Regions from separate parts of the Homo sapiens genome. Here regions 2, 3 and 4 are each linked to region 1. Evidence: fine-mapped expression QTL. A gene starts in region 1. Each other region holds a variant in brackets. All regions are shown on one strand. Distances are from middle to middle.

The links. PIP is the estimated chance that this variant, and not a neighbour inherited with it, causes the effect.
Region 2: its variant is fine-mapped to the expression of DENND4B in whole blood (TOPMed, PIP 0.93).
Region 3: its variant is fine-mapped to the expression of DENND4B in whole blood (TOPMed, PIP above 0.99).
Region 4: its variant is fine-mapped to the expression of DENND4B in whole blood (TOPMed, PIP above 0.99).

Annotation. Positions count from the first base shown.
Region 1 is chr1:153,941,961-153,950,221 of GRCh38, reverse strand. DENND4B (DENN domain containing 4B) reads left to right here and starts at 3,504. Exons shown (of 28, transcript NM_014856.3): 1 at 3,504-3,921; 2 at 5,825-6,164; 3 at 7,092-7,344; 4 at 7,597-7,666; 5 at 7,866-8,035; 6 at 8,109-8,261. The coding sequence starts at 5,848. It overlaps CRTC2 (CREB regulated transcription coactivator 2), which reads left to right. Exons shown (of 14, transcript NM_181715.3): 12 at 838-1,107; 13 at 1,578-1,764; 14 at 1,893-2,547. The coding sequence ends at 2,113. RefSeq lists enhancers at 2,933-3,002, 3,814-4,314, 4,783-4,832, 5,153-5,252 and a silencer at 3,393-4,292.
Region 2 is chr1:153,865,845-153,873,844 of GRCh38, reverse strand. All of the region lies in intron 1 of GATAD2B (GATA zinc finger domain containing 2B), which reads left to right. Among named protein-coding and RNA genes, the nearest start is that of GATAD2B, 53 kb to the left of the region's middle. The variant G/A (reference allele first, on the strand shown) is at 4,289.
Region 3 is chr1:153,742,229-153,750,228 of GRCh38, reverse strand. INTS3 (integrator complex subunit 3) reads right to left here. Exons shown (of 30, transcript NM_023015.5): 4 at 3,159-3,272; 5 at 2,866-2,950; 6 at 1,474-1,540. Among named protein-coding and RNA genes, the nearest start is that of INTS3, 18 kb to the right of the region's middle. RefSeq lists enhancers at 3,975-4,714, 4,715-5,454. The variant A/G (reference allele first, on the strand shown) is at 3,060.
Region 4 is chr1:153,821,104-153,829,103 of GRCh38, reverse strand. GATAD2B (GATA zinc finger domain containing 2B) reads left to right here. Exons shown (of 11, transcript NM_020699.4): 2 at 756-1,091. The coding sequence starts at 757. Among named protein-coding and RNA genes, the nearest start is that of SLC27A3, 50 kb to the right of the region's middle. The variant C/T (reference allele first, on the strand shown) is at 4,565.

The DNA of each region.
Region 1 (8,261 bases):
TACTTCTAAGGCTAGGCACAGTGGCTTATGCCTGTAATCCCAGCACTTTGGGAGGCCAAGGCGGGAGTTCAAAACTAGCCTGGTCAATATGGTGAGACCCAGTCTCTACAACAAATAAAAAATTACCCAGGTGCAGTCGCGCACGCTTGTAGTCCTGGCTACTGGGGAGGCTGAGATGGGAGGATCACTTGAACCAGGAAGGTTGATGCTACAGTTCCAACTATGATTGCACCACTGTACTCCAGCCTGGGCAACAGAGTGAGGCCCTGTCTCAAAAAAAGAGAATAGTTTACTTCTGGAGTAGATTTAAAATTACCCCTGTGTTAGCCTCACTATATCACTTTCATTCTGATAGGCACTTTTTTTTTTTTGGAGACGGAGTCTCGCTCTGTTGCCCAGGCTGAAGTGCAGTGGTGTGATCTTGGCTCACTGCAACCTCCCACTTCCTGGGTTCAAGCAATTCTCCTGTCTCAGCCACCCGAATAGCTGGGACTACAGACGCCTGCTACCATGCCCAGCTAATTTTTATATTTTTAGTAGAGACGGGGTTTCACCATGTTGGCCAGGCTGGTCTCGAACTCCTGACCTCAGGTGATCCACCTGCCTTGGGCCTCCCAAAGTGCTGGGATTACAGGCATGAGCCACCACACCCTGCCAACTAATACACATCCCTGGGGTTGAGTAACTGCACTCAACCCCAGGGATGCCCGTGAGAATGTGGAATGTTGTCATGTTTGTTTTGGGAATGGTTGTAGCTAAAGAAGGTGGGAAGCTCTGACTGAGAGTTCTTGGGGTATACACTGAGCAGTAAGCTTCCCTCTTTTTACTTCTTTTCAGGGCGTCCCCCTGGATACCAGTAAACTGTCCACTGACCAGCGGTTACCCCCATACCCATACAGCTCCCCAAGTCTGGTTCTGCCTACCCAGCCCCACACCCCAAAGTCTCTACAGCAGCCAGGGCTGCCCTCTCAGTCTTGTTCAGTGCAGTCCTCAGGTGGGCAGCCCCCAGGCAGGCAGTCTCATTATGGGACACCGTACCCACCTGGGCCCAGTGGGCATGGGCAACAGTCTTACCACCGGCCAATGAGTGACTTCAACCTGGGGAATGTGAGTACTCAGGCTCCTTGCTCAAAAGCAGGGGAGTGGGTGAGGGTGGGTCAATGGGGCCTGAATGGCATGGCTGGTGCACTGTGAATGGGGAGATCTAGGTGGGGTGGGTGGTGGGGAGATCTCCTCTCCCCGGAGGTAACATAGCACTGCCAGCTTGGGGCTCCTCTCTTCCTGCGTTTGACCCTACTCCTGCCCCTCTATTTCTGCTCAGCTTGCTCTTTGATGACTTCTGCCTTGACCCGTTCTCTTCCTGGCATGCACATGCTCTGGCCCAGCAGGTACGGTGCCCATACTTACTTCGGGCCCCGTGCTCGCTTCTGTCGCTCTGCTTGCTGCCACCTCCCTCTGTCATTGCCTCTGTTCCTGGGGTGGATGAAGGTTGCTGGGCAAAGGGGATATGTTAGCAGGGCTAGGCAGGACACCAGTTCTAAATCCTACTTCCTAAAGATTTGTCTGTATGTCTATAGCTGGAGCAGTTCAGCATGGAGAGCCCATCAGCCAGCCTGGTGCTGGATCCCCCTGGCTTTTCTGAAGGGCCTGGATTTTTAGGGGGTGAGGGGCCAATGGGTGGCCCCCAGGATCCCCACACCTTCAACCACCAGAACTTGACCCACTGTTCCCGCCATGGCTCAGGGCCTAACATCATCCTCACAGGTGAATGGGGGTGGGTGGTGATGGGAAATGGAAGGAGGAAGTGACACATTCACTAATGAGTAGGAGATTGAGGGGTCTTGGAAAAGTTTACAGGACATGGGGTCCTCACCTGTCTCTTCTACCCACAGGGGACTCCTCTCCAGGTTTCTCTAAGGAGATTGCAGCAGCCCTGGCCGGAGTGCCTGGCTTTGAGGTGTCAGCAGCTGGATTGGAGCTAGGGCTTGGGCTAGAAGATGAGCTGCGCATGGAGCCACTGGGCCTGGAAGGGCTAAACATGCTGAGTGACCCCTGTGCCCTGCTGCCTGATCCTGCTGTGGAGGAGTCATTCCGCAGTGACCGGCTCCAATGAGGGCACCTCATCACCATCCCTCTTCTTGGCCCCATCCCCCACCACCATTCCTTTCCTCCCTTCCCCCTGGCAGGTAGAGACTCTACTCTCTGTCCCCAGATCCTCTTTCTAGCATGAATGAAGGATGCCAAGAATGAGAAAAAGCAAGGGGTTTGTCCAGGTGGCCCCTGAATTCTGCGCAAGGGATGGGCCTGGGGGAACTCAAGGGAGGGCCTAAAGCACTTGTAACTTTGAACCGTCTGTCTGGAGGTCAGAGCCTGTTGGAAAGCAGGGGTAGAGGGGAGCCCTGGAAGCAGGGCTTTTCCGGATGCCTAGGGGTGGGCAGTGCCAGCCCCTCCTCACCACTCTTCCCCTTGCAGTGGAGGAGAGAGCCAGAGTGGATACTATTTTTTATTAAATATATTATTATATGTTAATAAAAAAATCATATCAAACCCTTGGTGTGGTTAGTTATTTGGGGCATGGCTGGGGATCTAGGGAGTTATAGGGCCATGGGTCTTTTTATCTATTAGGCTTTTTGCATCTTCTTAGCACCACTGTGCTTTGTGGAAGGGCCCCACAGCCTCGGAATTTGTACCCAGCTGGATGTAGGCTTCCACGGCAGCAGGAAATCACTTCATGTGCCCTCCTGTCTGTCCAGGGCCCTGCTGCAGCATCAGATGGGGGCTTTGACTGATCAGACAAGTTATTCCTCTTCCTCAACCCTAGGTCTGGCAGTGAGTCGGGTAAGGAGGTGATTGCTGGCTGAGCCCACAGGTCTGAAGTGCTCCTAGGTCTCAGGGAAGCAAGCCTTCATCCTCACTCCCTCACTATGCATGCATTCACTTCACCCTCTCCACTCTTCACCACTCATTCATTTTAGTTTTAATTAAACAGATCCTTCAGTGCCATGCATGTTCTGAAGGTTTTCTCTTTCTGGATTGGGTTGCCAGCCCTTGGACCAGCCGTGTGGGCCTCTGCACCCCTCACTCCCCCAACCCGCATAGTGAGAAAAGTAGAGCCCCGCAGTTACCTTACCCCCACCTCCACTGCTCTATTCCACACCCTGCAGTCCTGGCCTCTCTTCCTCTTTCCAAAGCTCTTGTCATTTTCAAAAAAGAGAACTGAGAGCTTCTGGTTCTGGTCCAAAGGGAATGCCCTGTGCCCTAAACCTGGAAGTAGGGGGAGCCACCTGGGTCCCCGTAGACTAGACCTTCGGGACTTCACCTGCGCCCACATCATGCTTGCCACATCTGACTGCAGGACCCAGGCGGGAAGGGAGCGCGCCGCGGCCCTCTGGGTCGCCTGGGGTCAGTGTCCTGAGGCACGGGCTGGATGGTGGGAAGCTACCTGGGTGCAGGGGGCCCTCCCAGCCGCCAGGGGTCGGGCTGCAGGCGGCTGGGCTTTGGGCAGACGCTTGCCAGGGTCACGGCCGCCGGCCGAGGAGGAGGGGTGGGGGTAGCGGCGGCGCCCGCGGCCCGGAGCGGGGGTTGGGGGAGTAGAGAAAGCGGGGCGCGCGGAGGAACGCTGGGTCCCCGGCGCCGCGGGAGCTGGGAGGACCGAGCCGGCCGAGCGAGCAGCGCGGCAGCACAGTCCCCGCGTGGCGCAGCGCGGCGGGGACGCGGGGACCGCCCGGATCTCCTTCCACTGCGCCCCGCGCTCTGCGGTCCTCGGCCGCCTCTTCTTCCTTCACTCACTGCCCGGGCGGGAGCGGCGCCCAAGTCGGGTGCGCCATGTCTGGGGCCGGGTAGCCCCGCCGCCCGCCGGCCCGCCAGCTCGCCCTCCGAGCCACCCGCCAGCGGGCCGGCCGGCCGGGAAGCGCGGGACAGGCAGGTAGGGGCTGGACCGGGCTGGGCGGCAGGCGGGGACGGGCAGGAGGGAGCGCGGGCGGCAGGCGGGGTGGGGGATGGCCCCCAGCTGCTGTCCCTCACTGCACATCTGGTTCCGGTTCCTCTCTCCTGGGGAAGTGAAAGTGGAGGGGAGGGCACCTCCCGCAATTAGCTCGCCGTGCCCGGCCTCCTGCACCCCCTTCTGCTCCCGTGGGTGCCGGAGTCGGAGCCGCCCTCCCTCCCGCTTGGGTCACGCGGCGGCCGGCGCTGCTGCCGTCACGTCCTCGGCCGCCGGCGCGCCTGCTTCTCTGCCCTCCTGCTCCTTCCTCAGCCTCCTCCCCCTCGGCGCGCCCTCTGCCCCAACCCGAACTTCCCGTCACCCGGCACGCGGGCGTGGGGACCCGGAGTGGGCCCTGTGCCCGTTGTCTTCCCTAGGGAGAAAGGGCTGCTTTCTGCAGGACTCTTCCCTGGCTTGGTGAGGGGAGGCCCCGGTGCGCAGGTCCTGCGGATGGGTGCCACCCACTTGCCCCTCAGAAGGTCCCACCTAATGGCCTCTGCCTGCTGCCTTGGGCATAGGGCTCCCATTCGCCCTCAGTGGATGAGGGACAGGTCTGTGCCCCAGAATTAAATCAAGAGGCTGACGCTGACTCCTGGCTTTACCTCCCAGAAGTGGAGTCTAAATTTAGCTGGGGTTGGTGTGTGTACGTGTGTGCGTGTGTGTGTGCGTGTGTGTGTGTGTGTGTGTGTCCAGAGGCCAGGTGATGAAGAAAGCCAGCCTGGCTCTATGAGATTCCTTATTCCCTGTTCTCTGGGGGAACAGCAGGAGGTTAGCAGGACTGCACATCCTGGAACCATTCTGAGCCTCCTCTGCCTTGCTCAGGATCCTATAGTCTGAGATTCCAACTTGGCGTAATGCTGTGCTGGCACCTTCAATGGTAACCCCACCACCGCCACCGCCACCACACACACCCATAGGCTGACTTCCTCTGAGTTGCAGCTTCCCCTCCACTGTTTCAGGAAGTAACCTCCCTTCCCCTCTGAAGCACCCCCCACGCTTCTGGGCCCCTGCTGCGAGCTACCCACCAGGCTTTTTCCCAGCTTCTGCACCCTGGGGCGCCTCAGGACCCTTGGGGCTCCTACTCCCCGGGGTTGGGCCATGGAGGCAGGTGAGAACTAGGCTGTTGTGGGCCTGTTTCTGTCTCTGGGCTCCATGGTGGAGGGTGTGGGATGGCCGGGACTTGTCTCTCACAACTGCTTTGGATCTAACGAGCTACCTAAGGATCCTGGAGGTGTGAGAACACTGGATTTTGGGCCAGATTGGTGGAGTTAAGCTAGGAGAAAGGACACTTGGGTTCGTTGAAAAGACTCTTAAAGCTTGGGTTTTGTGGGCTTTCTCAGAAACCCATGGGGTCCTCTTAAAAACCTAGGAGTGGGCTCTTTAAGAACATTGGCAGGATCACAAGGTTCTTATGGTGTCATAACTAGAGTAGGAAGGTCAGAAACCCTTGAAAAGACTGTAAGGTTGGTATGATGTCATGGCCAGCATGAATGATGTCATGGAAGGCTATTACAAAAAAGATTGTGATCTCTGTGATGTTATAACTGGTGAGCCTTTAAAAGGGACACATGGACAATGTGAATGTCATAGCTCAGGTTAGCTGTGTGTGGTGGAGTTTAGGTTCTTTGAGGGGAGTGCCAGGACCATTAAGTGGGAGGGATCTGGTCTCTTTAAGAAGCTGTGGTGGGCAGTGATGTCACAGGGGGAAGAGTTCAGGATTGGCCGACCCCTTATCCTGCCTTTCTTTGGAAGGACTAGGAAGAGGAGGGGAGCAAGAGGGTACCCTGGTTGCCATGGCATCCCCAGCCTTCCTTGCTTCATCTCTCTCCCACTTGACCATTCCAGATGCAGTGAGTGAGGGGGGGGCCATGGCGGAGGAGCGGCCCCCCCGGCTGGTGGATTACTTCGTGGTAGCTGGGCTTGCAGGGAACGGAGCACCCATCCCTGAGGAAACGTGGGTTCCTGAACCCAGTGGGCCCCTGCGCCCTCCCCGGCCAGCTGAGCCCATCACAGATGTGGCAGTCATCGCTAGGGCACTGGGCGAGGAAGTGCCCCAGGGCTACACATGCATCCAGGCTTCTGCTGGGGGCCACCCCTTGGAACTCAGTGCTGGACTTCTGGGTGGAACTCAACCCGTCATCTGCTACCGCAGGGGCCGTGACAAGCCCCCCCTCGTTGAGCTGGGGTGTGTGCCCCTACCCATGCTGGCACCAGGGGAGGCTGGGAGGGACTCCAGTGAGACAGGGAGAGGTAGGACTATGGAACAAGGGAAGGGCAATGGGGATGGGAGCCTGGTGGGCCAGGGGCCAGGAAGGAAGGACTGAAGTTGTATGTACTTAGTCCTTACAGATGCGATTTCATGTGCTAGTGCTGCTCCTTGCTAGCTCTGAGAGCTTAGGCAGGTTTTTGAGCTCCTCTGGGCCTGTTTTCCTCATCTGTCAAATGGGGAAAATAATTCATCCTCATAGGATGGTCGAGATTAAATGAGATAACCCATGTGACAGACTTAACAGAGTCAGTCAGTGGTAGCTTGTATAACTATTTTTTTTTTTTTTTTTTTTTTTATAGACAGAGTCTCTCTCTGTCACTCAGGCTGGAGTGCAGTGGTGTGATCTTGGCTCACTGCAACCTTCGCCTCCTGGGTTCAGGCAATTCTCCTGCCTCAGCTTCCTGAGTAGCTGAGACTATAGGCATGTGCCACCACGTCCAGCTAATTTTTGAATTTTTAGTAGAGATGGGGTTTGACCATGTTGGCCAGGCTGGTCCTGAACCCCTGACCTCAGGTGATCCACCTGCCTTGGCCTCCCAAAGTGCTGGGATTATAGGCATGAGCCACCGTGCCCAGCTGACCCTTAGTGTTTATTAATGAGTATGAGAGCCATAGAAGGCATGCAGGATTGTTGCTGACCATGAAATAAGGCCAAAGGCCAAAGAAAGGGCACAGGATTCTGGAGGGCAGAGTTCAGCAAGAAGAGGTGGGCCCTAGTGTTAGAGTTTGACAAGGCTGTGGGTACAAGGCAAGTTCAGGGGATTAGATAGGCAGATCTGGCAGGATTGGGTCTTTGTCCTCTACCCTGACCTCTCAACATCTATCTTTGCTCTCTGTGCCAAGGGTGTTGTATGAGGGGAAGGAACGTCCCAAGCCTGGCTTCCAAGTGCTTGACACGACACCCTACAGCCACTCAGCAAACCTGGCCCCTCCAGGCCCCGGGCACCCCCGCACCTACCTCACTTACCGGCGGGCAGCAGAGGGGGCAGGGCTGCATGCCCTGGGCATCACTGACCTCTGCCTGGTGCTGCCCAGTAAGGGCGAGGGCACTCCTCATACTTACTGCCGGCTGCCCCGCAACCTCAACCCTGGCATGGTGAGTGGGGCCAAGAGCTGACACCTGGTCCTCTTGGTGTAAGAGTGGGTGTGGACACTGGGAACAAAGGGCATCCCAGGACCAAGGCTCTGACCACAGGGGTGAGTCCAGAGGGGTAACTCTGGTCTTGGGGCACTGGGATTAATGGGAGCTTTAAAGACAAAAGAACATTTAGGGGTGGTAGAGAGAAAGTGGACCCCAGAAACCTTTGTTAGCTATGTATCTGCTTGTCTCTTGCCATTTCTGGGGTAGTGGGGCCCAGCAGTGTACCTGTGCTATAAGGTGGGCCTGGCGAAGGCCAACACGCTGGTGTACGAGGCAGGTGAGTGGCCCCTTTATCCCTCCAATCCTGTGACCCTACATCCCTTTGCCCTGGTGCCTCTTGGCAGGCACCTTAAGTGTCCCCAGAGTTTACTTTCTCTTTGCTACTCGGGCCTTCTCTGGGATCCCTTGGTTCATTTCCCTTGGAGTCTGATGGACCCTGCTCCTTTTGGGTACCCCCAACTATGCTGGGGGTGCAGAGCTGCTGGGCCGCTACCCGGAGGAGGACAATGAGGCGTTCCCGCTGCCCGAGTCAGTGCCCGTCTTCTGCCTGCCCATGGGGGCCACTATCGAGTGCTGGCCTGCCCAGACCAAGTACCCCGTGCCCGTCTTCTCCACCTTTGTGCTCACGGGTGCAGCTGGTGATAAGGTGGGTGTGTGGAGTGTGGCAAGGGGTCCAGGCTATGCAGGGCCTGCCTGACTACCCTTCTGCCCCCTGCCAGGTGTATGGTGCCGCCCTGCAGTTCTACGAGGCGTTCCCAAGGGCCAGGCTATCAGAGCGACAGGCACGGGCACTGGGCCTGCTGAGCGCCGTGGAGCGGGGTCGGGCACTGGGGGGCAGAGCTGTGCGCAGCCGGCGTGCCATCGCTGTGCTG
Region 2 (8,000 bases), 76 kb after region 1:
CTCAAGTAGCTAGGACTACAGGCATGTGCCTTTGCACCCAGCTAAATTGCTTTAAAAATGTTTTGTAGAGATGGGGTCTCACTATGTTGCCTAGGCTGGAGTGGAGCTCCTGTACTCAAGCAATATATCCACCTTGGCCTCTCAAAAGTGCTGGGATTACAGGCATGAGCCACCATGACCAGCCCCAAGAAATTTATTTCTCACGGCTCTGGAGGCTGGAAAGTCCAGGGTCAAGGGGCCATATCTGCTGAGGGCCTTCTTGCTGGTGGGGACCTTGCAGAGTTCCAGAGTGGCACAGGGCATCACATGGTGAGGGGACTAACGAGAGACAGCCACATTGGCTTTTATTACAGACCCACTCTTGTGCTAACTAGCCCCTTCTCTGAATAACCCATTAATCTGAGAATGGCTCAAGCACTTCCTAAAGGTCTCGCCTCTTAACACGCCTGCATTGGGCACCAAGTATCCAACAGATGAACTTCTGGGGGACACATTCAAATCGTTGCGGGGTATTAAAGCGAAGTACAAAGAAGAGAGATTTGCTGTCAAGTAGTTTGCATTAAACTTGGAAATAAATATGAATTGGTAGGTTACCTATTAAACAAGTGTGTTAGAGTAGCCTAGCAGTTTTCAAAGTGTAGTCTGTGGAATCCTAGAGAATAGACTCCTTTCATGGAGTCTGTGAGATCAGAATAGTTTCATAATAATACTAAGTCATCATTTGCCTTCTTCCCTGTGTTAACATTTGCAGTGATATCCAAAAGCAATGCTGATTAAAACGTTAGGGTAACCCTGAGCAATAGCACCAAACTAGTAGCAGGCATTGTGTTCTTTATTGTCATGCAGTTTAAATTTGCAGTAAAAAAAAAAAAGTTTCATTTAAGAATGTTCTTGATGAAGCAGTAAAAATTAATTTTATTTAATCTTGACCTTTTAGTACTTGGCTTTTGAATATTTTGTGTGATAAAATGGGAAGTACTCAAAAAACACTTCTGTTATATATTGAAGTACTGTGGTTGTCTAAGGAAAAGTACTTTTACAGTTATTTGGGTTTCCAGCTAACTAGTTGTCTTCTTCATAGAACAGCATTTTTACTTGATGAAAGAATAACCAACAAAGTACGTTATTTAGACTTGGGTATTTGGCAGATGCTTTCTTGAAAATTTTCAAGGAAAACAACTATTTTTGCCCAGTGATAAAATTAAAGCAAAAATGAGAATTTTGGAAAGTTTATATACTCCACCATGAGACGGTCCACTTCCCAGTTAGTTTTGTGGGGTTTTTTTTTTTTGATATTATGTAATATGTCAACCTTCGAAAGAGCTGCATGACTTAGTGAACTAGAAGTTTTCACATGACCAATATATTATGTGACAAAATCAGATTTGGTGAGAGATCCACTCAAAGTATAAAGTAGACCAATGTATTTTAATGTAATAATACAAAAGTTCATTGATAGGGTTTCAGAGTTCACATTTGCTGCTAACCTTTAGAAATTACTGGGTTGCTTTTTTTTTTTTTTTTTTTTGGAGACAGAGTCCTCTGTCACCCAGGTTGGAGTGCAGAGGCGGGATCTCAGCTCACTGCAACCTCTGCCTCCCGGGTTCAAGTGATTCTCCTGCCTCAGCTTCCCAAATAGCTGGGATTACAGGCACACGCTACCACACCCAGCTACTTTTTCATATGTTTAGTAGAGATGGGGTTTCACCATGTTGTTCAGGCTGGTCTCGAACTCTTGGCCTCAAGTGATCCGCCTACCGCAGCCTCTCAAAGTGCTGGGATTACAGGCATGAGCCACCGCGCCTAGCCTAGGTTGCTTTTTAAAAATTAAGTTAAATTTCACATAAACATCAAATTAACTTTTATTTATTAATTTACTAATTAATTTATTTTTTGAGACAGGGTCTCACTTTCTCACCCAGGCTGGAGTGCAGTGACACGATCTCAGCTCACTGCAGCCTTGACCTACTGGGTTCAAGTGATCCTCCTGCCTCAGCCCCCCAAGTAGTTGGGACTACAGGCACGGGCCACCATGCCCTGCTAAAGAATTAACCATTTAAAAGTGTACAATTCAGGCTGGGCACGGTGTCTCATGCCTGTAATCCCAGCACCTTGGGAGGCTGAAGTGGGCGGATCACTTGAGGCCAGGAGGTCGAGACCAGCCTGCCCAACATGGTAAAACCCGTCTCTACTAAAAATACAAAAATTAGCCAGACTTAGCAGTGCATACCTGTAGTCCCAGCTGCTCGGGAGGCTGAGGCAGGAGAATTGCTTCAGTAATATCAAGGAAAATATCCACGATTCTAATAAATTTAAGAGGCTGTTAAAAATGCCTCTTTCTCTGGCTGGGTACAGTGGCTTACACCTGTAATCCCAGCACTTTGGAAGGCCAAGGCAGATGGATCACTAGGTCAGGAGTTTGAGACCAGCCTGGCCAACATGGCAAACCCCATCTCTACTAAAAATACAAAAAAACAAGTGGCCGGGTGTGGTCGCTCACGCCTGTAATCCCAGCACTTTGGGAGACTGAGGTGGGCAGATCACAAGGTCAGGAGTTTGAGACCAGCCTGCCTGACATAGTGAAACCCCGTCTCTATTAAAAATAGAAAAATTAGCCGGGCATGGTGGTGCTCACCTGTAGTCCCAGCTACTTGGGAGGCTGAGGCAAGAGAATCACTTGAACCCGGGAGGCAGAGGTTGTGGTGAGCCGAGATCGCGCCACTGCACTCCAGCCTGGGCAACAGAGCGAGACTGTCTCAAAAAAAAACAAAAAACAAAAAACACCAGGCGTGGTAGCACCCATCTGTAATCCCAGCTACTCCAGAGGCTGAGGCAAGAGGGGAGGCAGAGGTTGCAGTGAGCCAAGATCGTGCCACTGCACTCCAGCCTGGGCGACAGAGCAAGACTCCGTCTTGGGGAAAAACAAAAAAAACCTCTCTCTAGTATCAGTATGAAATAATGGGTTCTCATATATACACATATACACAGGTTTGAGTATCCCTTATCTAAAATGCCTGAAACCAGAAGTGTTTCCAATGTTGGATTTTTTTGGATTTTGGGATATTTCTGTATACATAATGAGGTATCATGGGGGTGAGACTCAAGCCTAAACACAAAATTGATTTGTTTCATATATACCTTAAACATATAGCTTGAAGGTCATTTTATAACAACATTTTGTGCATAAAGCAAAGTTTTGACTGCATTTGACAGCATTTTGATGTGGAATTTTTTTCACATTTTGAAGTACTTTGGATTTTTTCCTTTTTTTTGAGACGGAGTCTGGCTCTGTCACCCAGGCTGGAGTGCAGTGACGCGATCTCTGCTCACTGCAAGCTCTGCCTCCTGGGTTCACGCCATTCTCCTGCCTCAGCCTCCTGAGTAGCTGAGACTATAGGTGCCCGCCACCACGTCCGGCTAATTTTTTAAATTTTTTTAGTAGAGACGGGGTTTCACTGTGTTAGCCAGGATGGTTTCGATCTCCTGACCTCGTGATTCTGCCCGCCTTGGCCTCCCATAGTGCTGGAATTACAGGCGTGAGCCACTGTGCCTGGCCGGATTTTTTCCTTTTTTTAGTAAAAAGTAGAGACAGGGTGACCAGGTACAGTGGCTCATGCTTGCAATCCCAGCACTTTGGAGGCCGAGGCAGGTGGATCTTTTGAGGCCAGGAGTTCGAGACCAGCCTGGCCAACATGATGAAACCCTATCTCTACTAAAAATACAAAACATTAGCGCTGGGCATAGTGGCAGGCCTTTGTAATCCCAGCTACTCAGAAGGCTGAGGCAGGAGAATTGCTGCTGGAATCTGGGAGGCAGAGGTTGCAGTGAGCCGAGATTGTGCCTGGATGACAGAGCCAGACTTCATCTCAAAAAAAGGAAAATGTAGAGACAGGGTTTTGCCATGTTGTTCCAGCTGGTCTTGAACTCCTGGGCTCAAGGCATCTGCCGCCTCAGCCTCCCAAAGTGCTGGGATTATAGGTGTGAGTCACCACACCTGGCCCAATTTGGATTTTCTGATGAGGGATCTTCAAGTGGTACACACATATGCAAATATAGATATAGAAAAAGATATGGATGTTACGTGTGTATGCATGCATTTTATTTCCTTTTCTGAAAGGGCCTGGAAGTAGTGACACCACCTAGCAGTGAGCACACCTGACACCAGATCTTGGTTTCGCAACACCATTCTCCAATAAGAGGAACCAGAGCTGCTTGGAGACATGGCTAGGGCAGATAAAAAAAGATGATGAACCTGGAACATCGTGTGGATACCAGAAGCTAATAAATT[G/A]CCAAAAAAGTAATAGAGAACCAGCTTGAAGGAGCTTTCAATGGCCAGATCTGGGACAGTTTGAAAAACAAATAATGATAAATAGATTATAACCCATGGGGTAAAATAAATATCCATAAGTTTATGCTGCTATAAATAAATATGGGAAAGAAAACAATTGTTTTCTGCAGTGAAACTCAAGTTGATAAATAGAAAAGGAATAATGGAAACATTAGGCAAATACTACAGTATTTGTTGCAGGCAAGAGTTGTCTTTTTTTTTTTTTGAGATATAGTCTTGCTCTGTCGCCTGGGCTGTAGTGCAGTGGCACTATCTTGGCTCACTGCAACCTCTGCCTCCCGGGTTCAAGTGATTCTTCCGGCTCAGCCTCTCAAGTAGCTGGGACTACAGGCACCCACCATCATGCCTGGCTAACTTTTGTATTTTTGTAGAGAGGGGGTTTCACCATGTTGGTCAGGCTGGTCTTGAACTCTTGACCTCAGGTGATCTGCCTGCCTTGACCTCCCAAAGTGCTGGGATTACAGGCGTGAGCCACTGTGCCCAGCAAGAATTGTCTTTGTATGCTAAAATTAATATGTGGAATTTTGATTGGAGATGGGATATTTACACAGTGGCTTCTAAGTATCTTGGCTTCGTCTCTACTAAAAATACGAAACTAGCCAGGTGTGATGGTGCGTGCCTGTAGTCCTAGCTACTCGGGAGGCTGAGGCAGGAGAATGGCTTGAACCCAGGAGGGGAGGCTGCAGTGAGCCAAGATGGTGCCACTGCACTCCACCCTGGGTGACGGAGCAAGAATCTCTCAAAAAAAAAAAAAAAAAGTATATAGTATATATATTAGTGGGAAAACTGGTGACATGTGAATAAGATCTGTAGAGTAGTTAATAAACACTATTGTTTCCTGGTTTCAATAATTGTACTGTGTTTATATGTTAACATTTAGGGGAGCAGGGTGAAGAATATTTGAAACTTCTGTAAGTCTAAAATTATTTCAGAACTTAGTTTTAAAACATAAGTTTATTAAAGACTTTAAATTTTTTAAAAAAGAACTCCTACCTTCCTGTGTATCTGTGTGAGACCACATCCACCCCCACCCCGTCCCCCATGCTGTTAACTAGAACAACATCACTGCACATTGAATGCAGAGGCAGCTATGAGAATCCAGCTGTCTGCTATTAAGCCAGACATTAAAGAGATTTGTAAAAATATAAAACAAGGCCACTTTTCTCACTAAATTGTTCTGTTATTTTGGAAAATATTTTTCATAAAGAAGTTATGTTAACATGGAATGGGTTTATTTTTAAATGCATTAATAATTTTAAAATTTTTATTTTCTTTTATTTATTTATTTTTTTTTGAGATGGAGTCTGCCTCTGTCCACCCAGTCTAGAGTGCAGTGGCACGATCTCAGCTCAATGCAACCTCCTCCCTCCCGGGTTCGAGCAGTTCTTCTGCCTCAGCCTCCTGAGTAGCTGGGACTACAGGTGTGCACCACCACGCCTGGCTAATTTTTGTACTTTTTAAGTAAAGACGGGGTTTCACCATATTGGCCAGGCTGGTCTTGAACTCCTGACCTCAGGTGATCTGCCCACCTCAGCCTCCCAGAGTGCTGGGATTATAGGCGTGAGCCACTGTGCCTGGCCTAAAATTTTATTTTAATTCTGTTTCTAATATGGTGACTCTTTTTTTTGTTGTTTTTTGAGACGGAGTCTCACTCTGTCGCCAAGGATGGAGTGCAGTGGCACCGTGTTGGCTCACTGCAACCTCTGTCTCCTGGGTTCAAGCAATTCTCCTGCCTCAGCCTCCTGAGTAGTTAAGATTACAGATGCTCACCACCATGCCCGGCTTGTATTTATATTTTTAGTAGAAACAGGGTTTCACCATGTTGGCCATGGTGGTCTTGAACTCCTGACCTCAGGTGATCCACCCGCCTCAGCCTCCCAAAGTGCTGGGATTACAGGCTCACGTGAGCCACCGCGCCTGGCCTCTTATGTGACTCTTTTAGTTACTGCTCTCTTTGGGGTCCTTGATTTTATTTATTTATTTATTTAGAGACAGGGTCTTGCTCTGTCACCCAAGCTGGAGTACAATGGTGCAATCATAGCTCACTGTGACCTCAAACTCCTGAGTCCAGACACTCCTCTTGCCTCAGCCTCCCAAGCGGGTGTCTTCCATAATCATTCATGTCAGATTATTTTCTCTGATTTGCCAAATTTATTTCTAACCTCCTGGTTGCTAACCTTGCCAGATATATTGTAGTATAATAAGCAGTTTGGGGTCTGATATGTTCTGTTTGTTTCTGTCATGTAAGGAGATCAGTGTGGTTTCTTTTGGTTCTATGTTATCTAAGTCTCCTCTTAGAAATAGTAGCGTTCCCATACCACACCGAGGTGTGCTCTTCTCAAGCCCTTGTCCATACCCTTTTCCATTCTGACAGTTAATTCCAACCTCTAAGGTAATCCTATAAAATGGTATATTGGAGGCCAGGTGGCGGTGGCTTGAGTCTGTAATACCAGCACTTTGGGAGACTGAGGCAGGCAGATCACTAGATCAGGAGATCAAGACCATCCTGACCAACATGGTGAAACCCCGTTTCTACTAAAAGTACAAAAATCAGCTGGTGTGGTGGTGTGCGCCTATAATCCCAGCTACTTAGGAGGCTGAGGCAGGAGAATCTATTGAACCCGGGAGGCGGAGATTGCAGTGGCTGAGATTGTGCCACTGCACTCCAGCCTGGCGACAGAGCAAGACTCCGTCTCAAAACAAAACAAAACAAAACAAGGTACATTGGAAATAATTTCACTTCTTTGTAGCATCAAAAATGAAACCTTTTCTGTACCCATTCTGCTTTTCTTTAGGGCCTTTTACCCCCATTTGAGGAATTTGCAGTTTGGTTTGTGTGTGTGTATAAATTCATTAGGAAACTGAAATGGAGAGGTTATATCCTTGGGAAGTGCAGAATAATTACTGGGATTGATTGATAATAGGAAGCATTAGATAGCTTGGAACGAGCTCAGCCATCTGGTTTGCATTAGGGCAGGTTGGAGATGGTGCAAGACCATTGCTATGTGATTTTTGCCAGAAACTGAAAGTGCATTTTGTTTACAGTTTAGAAGACAAATCGTCTTTCATTCACCTGTACAGTTGTAAGTAGAGGACACAGGCCCACTAATCTCAGAAGCTTGGTTGAGAAATAATTTATTTGGATCATTATTTGCTCTTTTAAAATACATGAATTGTCATTAGAGAATATAGCTAGGCTGCTACTGGATTAGCTATACTTATAACATTCTCACCTCTCTATTATGACTAATTTAGTGTACAGAGCTATGAATTTTTTTTTTTTTTTTTTTTTTTGAGACCTAGTGTCACTCTGTTGCCAGGCTGGAGTGCAGTGGCACCATCTCAGCTCACTGCAACCTCCGCCTCCCAAGTTCAAGCGATTGTTCTGCCTCTGTCTCCTGAGTAGCTGGGATTACAGCTGTGTGCCACCACACATGGCTAAGTTTTGTATTTTTGTATAGACAGGGTTTGACCATGTTGGCCAGGCTGGTCTTGAACTCCTGACTTCAGATGATCCGTCCGCCTCAGCCTCCCAAAGTGATGGGATTACAGGCATGAGCCACTGTGCCCGGCCTCAAACTTCTGGGCTCAAGCGATCTACCCACCTCAGCTTCCCTAAATGCTGGGGTTACAAGTGTGTGCCACTGCACCC
Region 3 (8,000 bases), 200 kb after region 1:
TGGAAGGCAGGGAACTGCAGGAAGATGAGATGGTGTTTAATTAGTCCAAGCAGGCCACATCCTGATTCCGGAAAACTACTCAAGCCACCTAATTAAAAGACTCTGTGGCCTTTTCTTTTCACAGAATGGATACACTAGCCAAGGTTACTGGGGAACGTTTCCTCCCCTACCTGCTACCTTTTAACTCCACAGCCCTAGAAACATTTGGAAGGGAGTGAGAAGGAGGGTGTAGGAGAGGACACAGTTTTAAATTTCTAGGTATTGACTTTCACCAAAAGATGTAAGTTTTTTGGAGGGTAGAAAACAGGGCAGTTATCTGGCTGTTATCTGATGCCTGTACAGGAAATTCAGCTTTAAGGTATGGGGACAGGACGTATTTGGTACCACGAATAAAATAAGAAAAATCACTTTTTAGAAAGATTGCTAGCAAAGGTAACGAAATTACCTGAATCCTGGAATGGCATAATAAAGAGAAAGAAAGAGTTGAAAGGCCCCCTGACCCAGGACAGTAAAAAGGAACAAAGACCTATCTGGTAAGAAGAGACTGTTAGGATCTCACGTGCTAGTGCAATGACACCAATAACAGAAGTGGCTCCAGGCCCAGATGTGGCTGCACATCCGTGCCCAGAGCACTAGGTGGCACTGCACAGCAGACAGGGCAGGGCTCTCAGACCTGGGCAGAGCACAGCACACAGCCATCTCTTTCACAAGTGTGAACGTTGGGAGGAGGTCCATTCTTCTGAACTACAGATAGTATGGACACTATTAGCCCTCTCAATCATTTGACTACTATGGTGTCCTCAATCAGAAAAGAGACTTAGAAGTCAAGCAAGAGGAAGACTGAAACCAAGGGGAAAGCCTCACCTCCAAACAAGTTCAGATGTGGAATAGCCCTCATAAAATTTCTGGCCCTTTATTTTGATGGATAAGGGAAAGAATCAGCCAGAAAGCCCAATATGTACCCCCTGATGCACCCTCTACCACTGGAACCTCCAAACCCTATATGCAAACTCCAGCAGGATTCACTAATCTCTATTACCTGCTCCACCCCAACTGCCCCCTGTGCCACTTCAAAAAGAGCAGGGGTTGGATGGAGAAGCTTGCAGGGGAGAAAAGGATACCTGCCAGGCGTGGGTGTTTGGCTGGCCCAATTCTACTGAGCTCATTCCTCCCCAACTTCCCCCTAAGATAAACATTCCAAGGAGGTCTGGATCAAAAATAAACCCTTATCAGATGAAGCCAGTTTTTCTGGGCTATGCGATATTTTGGCAAAGACCTCTTTCCCATTCCTTCATTCCTTGGGCATTAATTTCTTCACTTGCCAACAATACACTTGTCTCTCCCTCTCCTTGCCTCCCCCTCTCTAACTTAAGGTGTTCTTGGGCCACACAATCCTTTCATCCCCATTTCCCACACCCACACTCCTAATGGCCATTATCTGGCCTGTACCCCACCCTTCGTGGTGGATGCTACCTTTGCTCTGTCAGGATATCCAGAACACTTTCTGCCAACCAGATATTTTTGGCTGTAACATCTCCACCTGATTTCAAAAGGGGAAAAAAAGAATAGCTCCGATTAGCAAGTCAGCCAATCCAATACATCTCTTCACCCATTCTGCTGGTCCACCCTGACTGCCATCCCATTACTGCCATCCCTTCACTGCTGAGATAAACTGCCTTCTGTTCTGTCAGGCTTTAAAGTTTCACCCTTTGCCTCCAGAAAGAAGGAAAGGGAAGGTTCTGAATTTTTCTAGAAACCAGAGCTGCTACTTTCCCACAGATTGTGAGTTGGAGTGGGAACATTTTGGCCCTTGAAAATGAACGTCTGAGAAGTAGATATAAGAAGCCCACAGTTGGAAAGAAAGGATGATATCTCAGATAGAGCCTGAGAAGTACAGGTGGCTGACAACAGCTGCAGTCTAGCAACTGGATGTCCTGAGTCCTGCACTGAGGCCCCCAACAGGCCAAGAGTTTCTTATTTCCAGGTAACAGTCTTTAGTGCTTGCTATGAAACTCTGTGGGGCAGAATTAACACACAGCAATGCCATACCAGTCTTGGGATAAGAAGCAGGGGCTGGAAGTGCCAAACAGGGAAGAAGTGCCAGGAAAGAGGATAAAAATAGCTACAACTATGCCTTGCCCCAGGTCTCAATTAAAAAATTCAATGTTCACAAAGTCACATATCACATAGATTAAGGTTCATACACATCAAAACAGGAGCATCAGTGTTACATAAAATTTTAAAGAGGAAGCAAGTCCCAGTGGGCTAATGGTGAGGTAGTAGCAGGTCACTTTTAAACAAACACATGCAATCTTGGGAGTAGCCGCTTGAATATGCGATAGCTCAGACAGATGTCACCGATGCCAAGATGAGAATAAAACCTAAATGTCAGGGTCTGTTCTGTGACATAGTTTGTCCCTCATTCTGGCCCCAGTAAAGGGCTTAATTATTAGGGAGCAAGCGTTCAGATAATGGGGGTGGAGCCAGGGAAGATGTCTAGGTTTCTGAAAGCACAGGGACTTGAGAACAAATTAATTGCCCTCACTTCTCTCCCCATTTCTTCCTGCTCTGAAATGCTATAAAATCTCAGAGTGAAGACTGGCTAAAATAGGCCAAATATTCTGTCAAGCCCTGGGTTTAGCAGGAAAGAAAATGAGGCAAGACTTACTGCTTTAAAAGGCCCCCCATGATTTTTCAATCAATTTATTTCTACAACATATGTGGCCAGAAGATGTCTGTATCAGAAGGAAACAGTCTAAGCAATCCAAGAATTCCATCCCTTTGGCACTTAATCATTCTCCATTGTCTCTATGTAGTCTCTGGGCTCTCCTCCTTTCTTCTTTATGCTCCTGCCATCAAACTCACCTGCAATCTGCTTCATAAACGTCATACAAACACCATCGGCTCCCAGAACCCCACTCTTCACCAGTTCCCGTACCAACCACACCAACTAAAGGAAAGAGGGAAAAACAGATGAAGAGCAGGAACTGTGAGTTTGAGAAGGGAGCTAATTCAATTACAACTGAAAGGAGCACATTACAATTTAGACACACAATGAT[A/G]GGGGTGTGTTAGCCCTGATTCCTCTTTCCCGTTCCTGACAGAGAGAAGATCCATCCTCTCTCTTTGAGCTGGATCTTGTCTTTTCTTTCTGGCCTTACCTGAGTACGGCAGGTATCCTGCAGCTTCAGGTACTTCTCCATAAGTATCTGGTTGATTTTATTCAGGACAATATTCATGCCATCACGACTCACCAGAGCTAAGTCCCGGTAACACTGTGAGAAGTAAAGTTTGTGATCAGCCAGCAAGCTGAGGATAAGGTCCTCACCCCACCCACAGTGGACCCCTTGCCCTCTAATCCCTTAAACTTAAATAACACCAATAAGACACCGAGTAGCAATGAAATACTTTTCATTCTGGACACTTTCTTTCCACAGGGGTCCTGCATTCCCAACCTATCCCTTGTTCTGTCACACAGAGTGGGGAAAAGGTACTGGTTATCCTTTAATGAGGCAGAAAAGCCTGCTGGGCAGCCAGGTGCAGTGGCTCACGCCTGTAATCCCAGCACTTTGGGAGGCCAAGGCGGGTGGATCACGAGGTCAGGAGATCGAGACCATCCTGGCTAACACGGTGAAACCCCGTCTCTACTAAAAATACAAAAAAATTAGCCGGGCACGGTGGCGGGCACCTGTAGTCCCTGCTGCTCGGGAGGCTGAGGCAGGAGAATGGTGTGAGCCCGGGAGGCGGAGTTTGCAGTGAGCGGAGATCGCGCCACTGCACTCTAGCCTGGGTCTAGCCTGGGCGACGGAGCGAAACTCTGTCTCGGGGGCAGGGGAGAGAAAAGCCTGCTGGGCAAGGCTCCTAGTACTATCCCTGTCCCCCCCACTTCCCATCTTAGGAAGTGTCATACTGTTTGATGCCACAGGCTGAGCAAAACCAGGTGGAGGCCATCTGCTTTTCACCTGCCAGTCAGTAAAAGGTCACTGCAAAATGGGTTTGGTTGAACAAGCCAAAAAGGATCCCAAAGAGGTTTTTAGACCAGTACTGACCCAGTCAGATACAGCAAAGGGAGTAGTAAGGGAAGAAGATCCAGGGCAGGGCCCTAGACAGTTAAGGACAGAACCAAAACTGATATTTTTTTGAATTTTTAGTTTTTTTATACTTGGGGTCTTACTTTGTTGCCTGGGCTGGAGTGCAGTGGCATGATCATAGCTCATTGCAGCTTCGAACTTCTGCGTAGCTGGTACTACAGGCATGCACCACCACGCCCAGATAATTTTTAAAACAGTTTTTTCTAGAGACAAGGTCTCACTATGTTCCCTAGGCTGAAACTCTTGGCCTCAAGTGATTCTCCCACCTCGGCCTCCTCAGTAGCTGGAATTACAGGCATGAGCAACCATACCCAGCTGAACTAAATATCTTTATTCTTTTCTCTGTGATGCCCTTTCCTTCTGCCACTTATTGAAAAAGGAAAGGTGCTTTAGCATACCAAATCCTGGGGGAGGTAAGGGAGGGCATGCTAATTTCTTCTGTGAGATTATTGCTTCCCTTCCCCCCTTAGTTTTTTTTTTTTTTTCACTCTGTCTCTATTGTGAGACCAGACTCCTGGAGGAATACCTTAGGGGGCCTCATTAGCAACTTCCTTAGCCTGCTGAGTTCTATCCCGTCAGGATCTCATCAGAAAGAGTAGAAACTAGGCAGGTAGCTTCCCACAACCTCTGAAGACCAGTAGCAAGGATGGCATCAAAAATAATAATCATATAGTATAGCAAGGGCCGGGTATGGTGGCTCATGCTTGTAATCCCAGCACTATTTGGGAGGCCGAGGCGTGTGGATCATCTGAGGTCAGGAGTTCGAGACCACCCTGGCCAACATGGTGAAACTCCATCTCTACTAAAAATACAAAAATTAGCTACGTGTGGTGGCACGTGCCTGTAGTCCCAACTACAAGGGAGGCTGAGGCGGGAGGATCACTTGAACCCAGGAGGTGGAGGTTGCAGTTAGCCAAGATCGTACCACTGCACTCCAGCCTGGGTGACAGAGACACCCTGTCTCAAAAAAAAAAAAAAAGTACAGCAAGGATGTTGTTATACTATAGCAAGCAATAATACAGCAAGGATGGCATCAACAACAATAATATATATATATGTATATATTACTGCATTTGATATACATAACAACCTTTTAAAATAGTACTACTTATTATAATTATTTTTACAGATGAGGAAATAGGCATGGAGAGCTTAAAAGTTATTTGCCCCAGATGACATAAGAGATTAGAGGAAGAACCAGGATTCAAATCCAGGCACTCCAATTCTATAACATGCTTAACCACCTCTTGTATCAACGTTAGAAATAACCAGAAGAGGCTGCTGGGAATAGCGGTATGAGTTTGTAATAGTTTTGAGACTCTACCTTTCTCCTGTCTTGGCCTCCCAAAACACTGGGATTACAGGCATGAGCCACTCCGTGCAGCAACATTTCTAAACTCTTTCATCCTATGCATTCAAAAGAAATGTACCCCTCAGTACCATCTGCTCTCTAGCCTTGAGAGACTCCTAACAGATTAGCTATTGCCACTTCCTTCTGCCTCTATTGTCGTTAAGTCAAACCAACTGATGATGAAAATACCCACAGTGAGAGATCCTCCATGTGCCATAAACTTCATCCCCAAAAGAGAATGACTCCCTCTGGGGGATGGTTGATGGTTGGGAGACCAAAAAAACAAATAAGGAAACAAGAAAGAGATGAAGGGTCCCAGTGAATTACTGTCAAATATTGATAGTTAAGTCCTGGACCCTCCCCTGGAGGTAAGTCACAGAATGGGCAGAGGACAAAGGAAGTAGAGGCAGAGGGAAAATCTGTGTCAGGCCAAAGACAGACATTACTAACTAGAGAAGAACCTTGTTGTTCAAATGAATGCAGAACAGACTCAGGACAGGGAAGCAGGACAAGTTCTCTCAGGAGATACAGGGTCAGATGAAGACAGCAGATACTGTCTGCCTAGTTCCATGTTCCATCTGGGATCTTTACTAACCACAACTGCTGGTAACAAATGAGAACCGAGAGTTTCATACACCTAAGGCTGCCAGTTGTGTTACCGACCTCTGTGTCGGTTTGCTGACCAGCTTGGAAAAGCAGCAGATGAAACACACACACACACACACACACACACACACACACACACACACACGCACATGCACACCCTCAGTGAGGAAAAGAGAAGTGGAGAGTCTCAAAGAAAAGTAAAAGTGACTGGTGACTGGATGGCATCTATCCTGAATGTGTCAAGAGCAGTGATGTGTCAGCCTAGGCCCCAGAGCCCCCAAGCTTCTTTCTAGAGCTGCCTGCTGGGAGAAATACCTAGACCAAGAGCTGCCTGGGCCTGAGTCCTTGACCCTTTGATGAAGACAGACCTTGACATTAGACCCTTTCCCATTACCTTTATCTATTGACTGCCAGCACCTGCACAGCTTAGGACTCTACCTTAGCCTCCCTCCTTGCCACAGTTCCCCAGCCAGGCCTGCTCCCAGCTGTTTAGTTCAGACACCAAATAGAAAATAAATAAACTCAAAGGATATAAACATTCCTAAGGGCTGCCAAGAGGGCTGATGCAAATCAAGAAGGTACAAGTGAGACAAAATCCACCCCATGCATCCTCTACTCTTTCCCAATACTGACCTGCTTTCTCCTTAACTGAATTCTCTTGTTCACCTGTTCAATCCATCCTAATCCCACCCACTAAGTCCCAGAGAGTTGGCCCTAACTCCTTGAACCTGCCTGCCAGTACTAACAGAGGCTCCTCAGCTCAACCTTCCTTATAGCAGTATTCTATTTGTTCAAGACTCAGTTTCCACACTTCTCCACCATATCCACTTCCCATCTCAGCCCATGAAGATTCAAGAACAACTAAATCTCAAATACATCCTGAGGTTTCTGTTCCAAAGGCAGAATTAACCCCAAATACAAATCCTTAGAAAACAGTCCCATTGCTTTAAGCTGAAGCCTAAAATGATGCATTACAATCAGTCCTCATCAGTAACTCCCACCTAAAACTTCTGTAGGACAGAAGTATTTTTACAAAATAATCACCCTTTTAGGGAGAAGGAGCAAAGCTCTAGGGAGATACGTCACTAATTCTTCCATCATGCTCTGACCTGGCTCAAGGTCTCTGAATGAGTCACTACTTGATAGTTCCTCACCCGCCTAAAACTGTGTCCTCCTAATTCTGTCTTTACTGCCTTTGTCTGAAGAGGCCTGACCTGGAGGCTTGGCCCAGGAAGGCTCACAGGTAGGGGATTTACTTGGAAACTTTTAGCATGTGAACATGAATGCTAGCAAAGGTGTCAACCAGCTATGAGACCCGAGGCAAATGCTTCACTTCCCCAGAGGGCCTGGGCCTCCCACATGGGGCTGTTATAGGGCAAAAAGAAGAGGAGATACTCTAGTCTCTTGCTGTGTCTGGATGGCCAAATTCATGACATAATAAGCATTTACACTGCAGAACCCAGTGGCCTCTTACTGATAGGCCAGGCAAAGAGCTAGAAATACCACACATACTCTGCCCCCTTCACTTAGGTTTACTGATTTACCCAGGTTGGTTCAGATCACCTGAAACAAACAAACAAAACTTTCCAGCAGGCAAGACTAATTTGCACTGAGATGACTAAATGGAATTTGAATGGTATTTATAAAAACCCACACACAGCCAATGATGCGCACGCACACACACACACACACACACACACACACAGAGATTAAAAAACCCACACAAGAGGAAGTTAAACTTTAACTCCATCCCATCTACTCTCATCTTTGCCAACAATTTCTTTAAAATGGATGTGCTGGACTGGATCATATCACTCTTTAAAACCACCCAACTGGAAACATTCATTTGTCTTCAAGGATCTTGATGATAAATTCAGTATAAAAATGAAACAGCAATTTAACTCGACAAGGTCCCAGCCCAGAATGGGCTTGGCTTTCCTGGGAAACCAAGAATT
Region 4 (8,000 bases), 120 kb after region 1:
CCTCCCAAGTAGCTGGGACTACAGGCATGTGCCACCATGCCTGACAAATTTTTAATTTTTTTGTAGAGATGGGGTCTCACCATTTTGCCCAGGCTGGTCTTGAACTCCTGGGCTCAAGCCATCCTCCCACCTCAGCCTCTGGAGGAGCTGACAATACAAGTTGAGCCACCATGTCCGGCCTACATTTAGATTTTGTTAGTGTAAAAAAAATCAAAGTGAAAAGGGAAGATAATGATTAATTAGCTTGTCGTTAACACTTTTTCTTCATGAGTAAAGAAAAAAATAGTGCTTCTTATCAGGCTAAGCACCTGAGTTCTTCATTTTAAAAAGCATCTTAAATGTCTTCAGATTTTGAATCTGCTAACCCTGGTGACATGCAGTTTACCTATATAACAAACCTGCACATGTACCCTTGAACATAAAATAAAAGCCAAAAAAAAAAAAAGATTTTCAATCTGTATCCATGTAGAATTAAGGGCACGTGTCAACAGGCCTTGCTTATGTAGATTTAAGTTTACTTAAATTGCTGGGTTGAATGCCCAGAAATCTCCTTTAATATAAATGTTCTAGGACAATATCAGGTAGGACATAGCTTAGTTAACTTTGAACTTTGTGTGTGTGTGTGTGTGTGTGTGTGTGTGTGTGTGTATGTGTGAGAGAGAGATTCTTGTTAATAACTTCACCATTCCACCTTTTTAAAAATGGACTATTTAAGGGACTTTATTCTGATCTTACTTGTATTTTTCTTTCCATAGGATGGATAGAATGACAGAAGATGCTCTTCGCTTGAATCTGTTGAAGCGGAGCTTGGACCCAGCAGATGAGCGAGATGATGTCCTGGCAAAGCGACTCAAAATGGAGGGGCATGAGGCCATGGAACGTCTGAAAATGTTGGCATTGCTCAAAAGGAAGGATTTGGCAAATCTTGAGGTGCCACATGAGTTACCCACCAAACAGGATGGCAGTGGTGTCAAGGGCTATGAAGAAAAACTTAACGGGAATCTCAGGCCTCATGGAGACAACAGGACTGCTGGAAGGCCAGGCAAAGAAAACATCAATGATGAGCCTGTGGATATGAGTGCTAGACGGAGGTATGGCTCAGTTCAGCTGCCTCCAGGGATAGGGTCGTCTCATAAAGCCTGTGAAAATGGAATGAATTCCAATGAGAGGAGGGTGTTTTTCATCCTAAAGATTCTTAAAAGAAGATATATCATCGAGTTTGACCATAAATTCATTTTATTTCCAAATGAAACCAGGTGCCTCAAAAACTGCTTAGCCTACAGAGAATCGTAGTTCTTACTCTTAAGAGAAAAAATGGTCATTTCTAGATAAAGGGGGCACTAGAGAGCTGATAGGCCAAATGGAAGTGAGTTAATATATACCTTCATTCTAATCTTCATGGCCGTCTTAGGAGGAGAAAAATAGTCTTTTTGTCAGATAATTCCAGGAGTTTTAGGATGTATTTATTGTGGAGTCCCAGCTTTTATTACATCCAAAAACATGGGCCTAGCTTTTCTTGTGTCAGAAAGCAAATTATCTTCATGTGGTAAGTCTCTGCATTCTTGCTGTATCTGTACCACTTCCCCCAGCTCCCCCATATACATATACATTCACTTGTACATGTATGTTACTCTCTCTTTCACTCACACATGCAACATGTTTTCCCAGGCCTTTTTTTCTGGTGTCTTTCAAGGTTGAGTACTTGAAACTGTAGAGCACACAGTAAGGAGAGGTACCTGGAACTGGCCAATGGTTGAGTCTCCCTGTGCAGTGAATCATAGTATAGATAACCCTAGTTGGGGTTTTTTTTTTCTTTTTGTTTTTTATGAGTTTTTTTGGTGCTTTTTTTTTTTTTTTTGAGGCAAGGTCTCGCTCTGTTGCCTAGGCTGGCGTGTAGTGAGTGGCCTGATACCCTGGATTCAAGCGATCTTCCCCCCTCAACCCCAACCCACACCCCACCCCCCTTGAGTAGCTGGGACTACAGGCACATCCCACCATGCCTGTCTAATTTTTGTATTTTTATAGAAACAGGTTTTTGCCATATTACCCAGGCTGGTCTCGAATTCCTGAGCTCAAGTGGTCCTCCCTCCTCAGCCTCCTAAAGTGCCGGATTATGGACATGCACCACAGCATCCAGCCAGTTTTTTTTTTTTTTTTTTTTTTAAGATAGGGTCTCACTTTGTCACACAGTCTTGAGTGCAGTAGCATGATCATAGCTCATTGTAACCACCAACTCCTGGGCTCAAGTTATCTTCGCGCCCTAGCCTCCCAAGTAGCTGGGACTACAGGTGTGCATCATCACACCCAGCTAATTTTTGAATACTTTTGTAGAGACAGAGTCTCACTATGTTGCCCAGGCTGGTCTCAAACTCTCAGCCTCAAGTGATCTTCCCACATTGGCCTCCCAAAGTGCTGGGACTACTGTTGTGAGCCACCACACCCAGCTTATAACCCAAGTTGTGTGTGTGTGTGTGTGATGGAGTTTCACTCTTTTTGCCCAGGCTGAGTGCAATGGTACGATCTAGGCTCACTGCACCCTCCACCTCCTGGGTTCAAGTGATTCTCTTGCCTCTCTACTCCCCTAAGTAGCTGAGATTACAGGCGCGTGCCTGCACACCCAGCTAGTTTTGTATTTTTAGTAGAGATGGGGTTTCACCATGGTAGCCCGGCTGGTCTCGAACTCCTGACCTCAGGTGATCTGCCCACCTCTGCCTCCCAAAGTGCTGGGATTATAGGCATGAGCCATCACACCCAGCCAACCCTAGCTTTTAAAACATTCAGTTTAGGCTGGGTGCGGTGGCTCACGCCTGTAATCCCAGCACTTTGAGAGGCCGAGGCGGGTGGATCATGAGGCGGGTGGATCACGAGGTCAGGAGATCGAGACCATCCTGGCTAACACCGTGAAACCCCGTCTCTACTAAAAATACAAAAAATTTGCCAGGCATGGTGGCAGGTGCCTGTAGTCCCCGCTACTTGGGAGGCTGAGGCAGGAGAATGGTGTGAACCCGGGAGGTGGAGGTTGCAGTGAGCCGCGATTGCTCCACTGCACTCCAGCCTGGGCGACAGAGCGAGACTTCGTCTGAAAAAAAAAAAAAAAGTCAGTTTATAAATAGTTCAGAAACAGCTGATAGCTGTGAGAATTAGTCTTCAGTGTTGAGTTGCCCTCCAAATGACCTTGCTGAGTTTGTTGTAGGACTCATCCAAAGCAGAATCTCTAAGAAGCTGGACTGGTGGAGAATGAAGAAGAAAGAAATGGTTATAACTTTACACATGTTACTTTCTCTACCTTTTGATGTCTACTTACTGGTCTTGTCCCAGGATTATTTTTTAAAACCATGCTCCATAAGCAAACATTATTCTTGGTAGTAACATTAAAAACTCTTAGTAAGCGGTGGCTCACACCTGTAATCCCAGCACTTTGAGGCCGAGGCGGGTGGATCACCTGAGGTCAGGAGTTTGAGACCAGCCTGGCCAACATGGTGAAACCTTGTCTCTACTAAAAATATGAAAAAATTAGCCAGGTGTGGTGGCACACACCTGTGTTCCTAGCTACTTGAGAGGCTGAAGCGTGAGAATTGCTTGAACCCAGATGGTAGAGGTTGCAGTGAGCTGAGATCGTGCCACTGCACTCCAACCTGGGCAACAGAGTGAGACTCTTGTCTCCATTTTAAAAAAAAGCAAAAACAACCACAAAAAAACCTCTTAGGAAACCTCAGGCAGATTCCCTAGAGGTCCTGGAAGAGGAGAAAAATACTTGTAAGTTATAGGTAGTGCCAGCAGAATATTATATAAGTAGGTTCATTTTTAGATTGTTTGCAAGAAAAGGATATGGGTGAATGAGATCATGAACCTGAGCAACCTACTTGGCTTTTATAATCTCTCTTACCCTTCTGGAGCAAGTAACTTATCCCACTTCATTGGGGAGAAAGAGTTAAAGAAATGTTAGGTGGATTCTTCACATTCCAAATTGGAACTTTTAAATGCATTTTTCTTTCCTTTCCTTCTCTTTCCCTTTCCTGACAAGGTCTCACTCTGTTGCCCTGGCTGGAGTGCAGTGTGGCATGATGTCCGTTCACTGCAACCTCCACCTCCCAGGCTCAAGCAATCCTCGCTCCTTAGCCACCCAAGTAGCTGGGACTATAGGCGTGTGCCCCTGTACCCAGCTAATTGTTTTGTATTTTTAGTAGAGACGAGGTTTCGCTGTGTCACCCAGGCTGGTCTCTAACTCCTGGACTCAAGTGATCTGCCCGCCTTTGCCTCCTAAAGTGCTGGGAATACAGGCATGAGCCACCATGCCGGGCCCAACATTTTTCATAGAAACTTTGTTAACACTCTTTTTTTTTTTCCTGTTTTCAGTCCTGCTCCTGTAGACATTTTGATAAGATCTTATTAATGGTATTGGAATTGTATTATATTGCAGATAGATACAGTATATGTTAAAAAGTCAGACTTCCTGAAAACCCAACTTTTTTTTTTTTTTTTTTTTTTTTTAAAGGCAGAGTCTCGCTCTGTTGCCCAGGCTGGAGTAAAGTGGCGCAATCTTGGCTCGCTGCAACCTCCGTCT[C/T]CTGGGTTCAAGCGATTCTCCTGCCTCAGCCTCCTGAGTAGCTGGGACTACATGCTGGCTAATTTTTGTATTTTTAGTAGAGATGGGGTTTCGCCATGTTGGCCAGATGGTCTCGATCTGCTGACCTTGTGATTCACCCGCCTTGGCCTCCCAAAGTGCCGGGATTATGGGCGTGAGCCACCACACCTAGCCAAACCCAACAATTTTTTTAAAAATGTTATTTTGGGGTGATTTTTAAAAATCATTTAAAGAGATGAGGTGTTGCTGTGTTGCCCAGGCTGACGTACATTGGCTGTTCACAAGCACTGTCATAGTGCACTATTTCCTCAAATTCCTGGGCTCAAGCAGTCCTCCCCACTTGGCTTCCTGAGTAGCTGGGACTATTAGGCATGGGCCGCTGTACCCAACATGGGGTGATCTTTTGAAACACAATCCTCTGGAAGCTTGGGACTCCAGATATACTGACAGCTATTTCCACTTAGCCCCGAGATGTATAAGAATGAACAAAACTGCTGGGCACAGTGGCTCACGCCTGTAATCCCAGCACTTTGGGAGGCCGAGGCGGGAGGATCATCTGAGGTCAGGAGTTCGAGACCAGCCTGGCCAACATGGTGAAACCCTGTCTCTACTAAAAATACAAAAATTAGCCAGGCGTGGTGGCGGGTGCCTGTAATCCTAGCTACTTGGAAGGCTGAGGCAGGAGAATCGCTTGAACCCAGGAGGTAGAGTTGTAGTGAGCAGAGATTGCACCACTGCACTCCAGCCTGGGTGACAGACCAAGACCTTGTCTCAAAAAAAAAACAAACAAAAAAACAAAAAAAAAAAGCAAAACCGATAGATTCCCAGCAAGGAGAACCATAGTTTCTTTGATAGTGATAAAAAGAGGAAAGGGCTGGGTGCAGTGGTGCATGCCTGTATTCCCAGCACTTTGGGAGGCCAAAGTGGGAGAATTGCTTGAGGGCAAGAATTTGAGCTCTGTCTGGGCAACATAGTGGTACCTCATCTCTACCAAGAAAAAATGAAAGAATTTGAAAGCAGAAGGCAAGAGAAGTTCTTAACATAATAGCCATGTCATAATAGCCTAAATATCTTATTTTGCCATCAGTTGGGCAAGTTACGATACCTGTGAAATAAGGTATGTATGAAACCAACACTACTAATGTTTTAGAATTCTAGAGAGACACAGCAGTTGTCTGCTTAGTTGTTTTTACTACTGGGATAAGGATTAGGAGCTTTATAGCTTCTGAGAATATGCCAGACTAAGTCACAAGTGATGTCACACCAAGTGGGTCTTTTAATAATATCTCTCTAATAGGTAGGAGTTCATACTTAACTACCCCAAATATTGTAAATTATATATATGTTTAGGAAAAGAGCAAAATAATTTCTCTCTTGGAATGTTTAACAAATGAGGCCAGAATCCTAGTTCATTAGTTTTTTAAAATTAAGAAATGAGGCAGGGCATGGTGGCTCACGCCTGTAATCTCAGCACTTTGGGAGGCCAAGGCAGGAGAATCACTTGAGCCTAGAAGTTTAAGACCAGCCTTAGTAACATAAGGAGACCCCTTCTCTACAAAAAATTTAAAAACTAGCTACTCAGGAGGCTGAGGTGGGAGGATCGCTTGGGCCTAGGAGATTGAGACTGCAGTGAGCCACAAATGATTGCACCACTGCACTCCTTCCTGGGTGACAGAGTGAGACCCTGTCTCAAAAAACAAAAGAAAAAATAAATACAAGAAAAGAGGCTGGACGCGGTGGCTCATGCCTGTAATCCCAGCTCTTTGGGAGGCTGAGGCGGGCGGATCACGAGGTCAGGAGTTTGAGACCAGTCTGGCCAACATAGTGAAACCCCGTCTCTAAATACAAAAATTAGCCGGGTGTGGTGGCGGGCACATGTAATCCCAGCAACTCAGGAGGCAGGAGAATCACTTAAACCTGAGAGGAGGTTGCAGTGCGCCGAGATTGCACCATTGCCCTCCAGCCCCGGTGACAGTGCAAGACTCCGACTCAAAAGAAAAACAGAGAGGCTTTGGCTTTGCCTTATCTGTGCTATCTACCTAATACCGGTGTGTTTATATCTGGGAATAAAATAATCATTTAAAGTTGTTCTCAGATATAACTTCCTGATAAATGGCATACAGTTCCCAAATCTCCATCCAGTAATATCTCTGTCTTGGTACTGGGCAGTTCCTAAGCAGTTAAGTGGCACTCATTTGAGCAAGGAAGAATTCCTTACCTTAGAAATAATCTGTAATGTATATATCCAGCCAGGACCAGAATAGAAAGAGCTTCTAAATGAAAAATCTTCCAGATTCCAAAATTACCGGTGTTTTATTTTTTATTTATTTTTAATTTTTTTGAGACAGAGTTTTGCTCTGTCACCCAGGCTGGAGTGTAGTGGTGCAATCTCGGCTCATTGCAACCTCCACCTCCCAGGTTCATGTGATTCTTGTGCTTCAGCCTCCTGAGTAGCTGGGATTACAGGCGTATACTACCATGCCCGGCTAATTTTTGTATTTTTAGTAGAGACAGGGTTTCTCCACGTTGGCCAGGCTGGTCTCAAACTTTTGGCCTCAAGTGATCTGCCCACCCAAAATGACCCATGTTAATCATAGAGGGGGAGTATAAAGGAATATAGAAATGAGAAGTAAATCACGCTTTAAAAATGAATTCAGGCCGGGCACAGTCGCTCATGCCTGTAATCTCAACACTTTGGGAGGCCAAGGCAGGCAGATCACGAGGTCAGGAGTTTGAGACCAGCCTGGCCAAAACGGTGAAACCCCGTCTCTACTAAAAATACAAAAAAAAATTAGCCAGGCGCGGTGCCGGGTACCTGTAATCCCAGCTACTGAGGCTGAGGCAGGAGAATCACTTGAACCCAGGAGACGGAGGTTCCAGTGAGCCGAGATCGCGCCATTGCACTCCAGCCTGGGCGACAGAGCCAGAATCCATCTCAAAAAAAAGAATGCAGACACTTTATTCAGGCCTGTTACTCCTCATATTTGGGGTTAGAGAATGAAAGGCTCTTTTCTCCCTCTAGTGGCTTTTTCTGTATTTCTACCTTCTCAGCTTGCTGTGTCTGTGGCCAGCAATCTAGACAAATTTAATAGTTCACAAGATAGTCATTCTTACCTTTCTATCCTCCTATTCTATTTCCTTACCTAAGTTTGGTTGATTTTAGCAACTCAGATTTACCCTGTTAGGAAATTGCTTATTCCAGTGATCGGGGTTCCCTGTTCAAAAGTATCCATGTCCTGGCTGGGCATGGTGGCTCACACCTGTAATTCCAACACTTTGGGTGGCTGAGGCAGCAGGATCACTTGAACCCAGGAATTCAAGACTAGCCTGGGCAGCATAGCAAGACCCCCACCCCTTACAAAAAAATAAAAAATTAGCCAGGCACAGTGGTGTGCACCTGTAGTCCCAGCTACTCAGG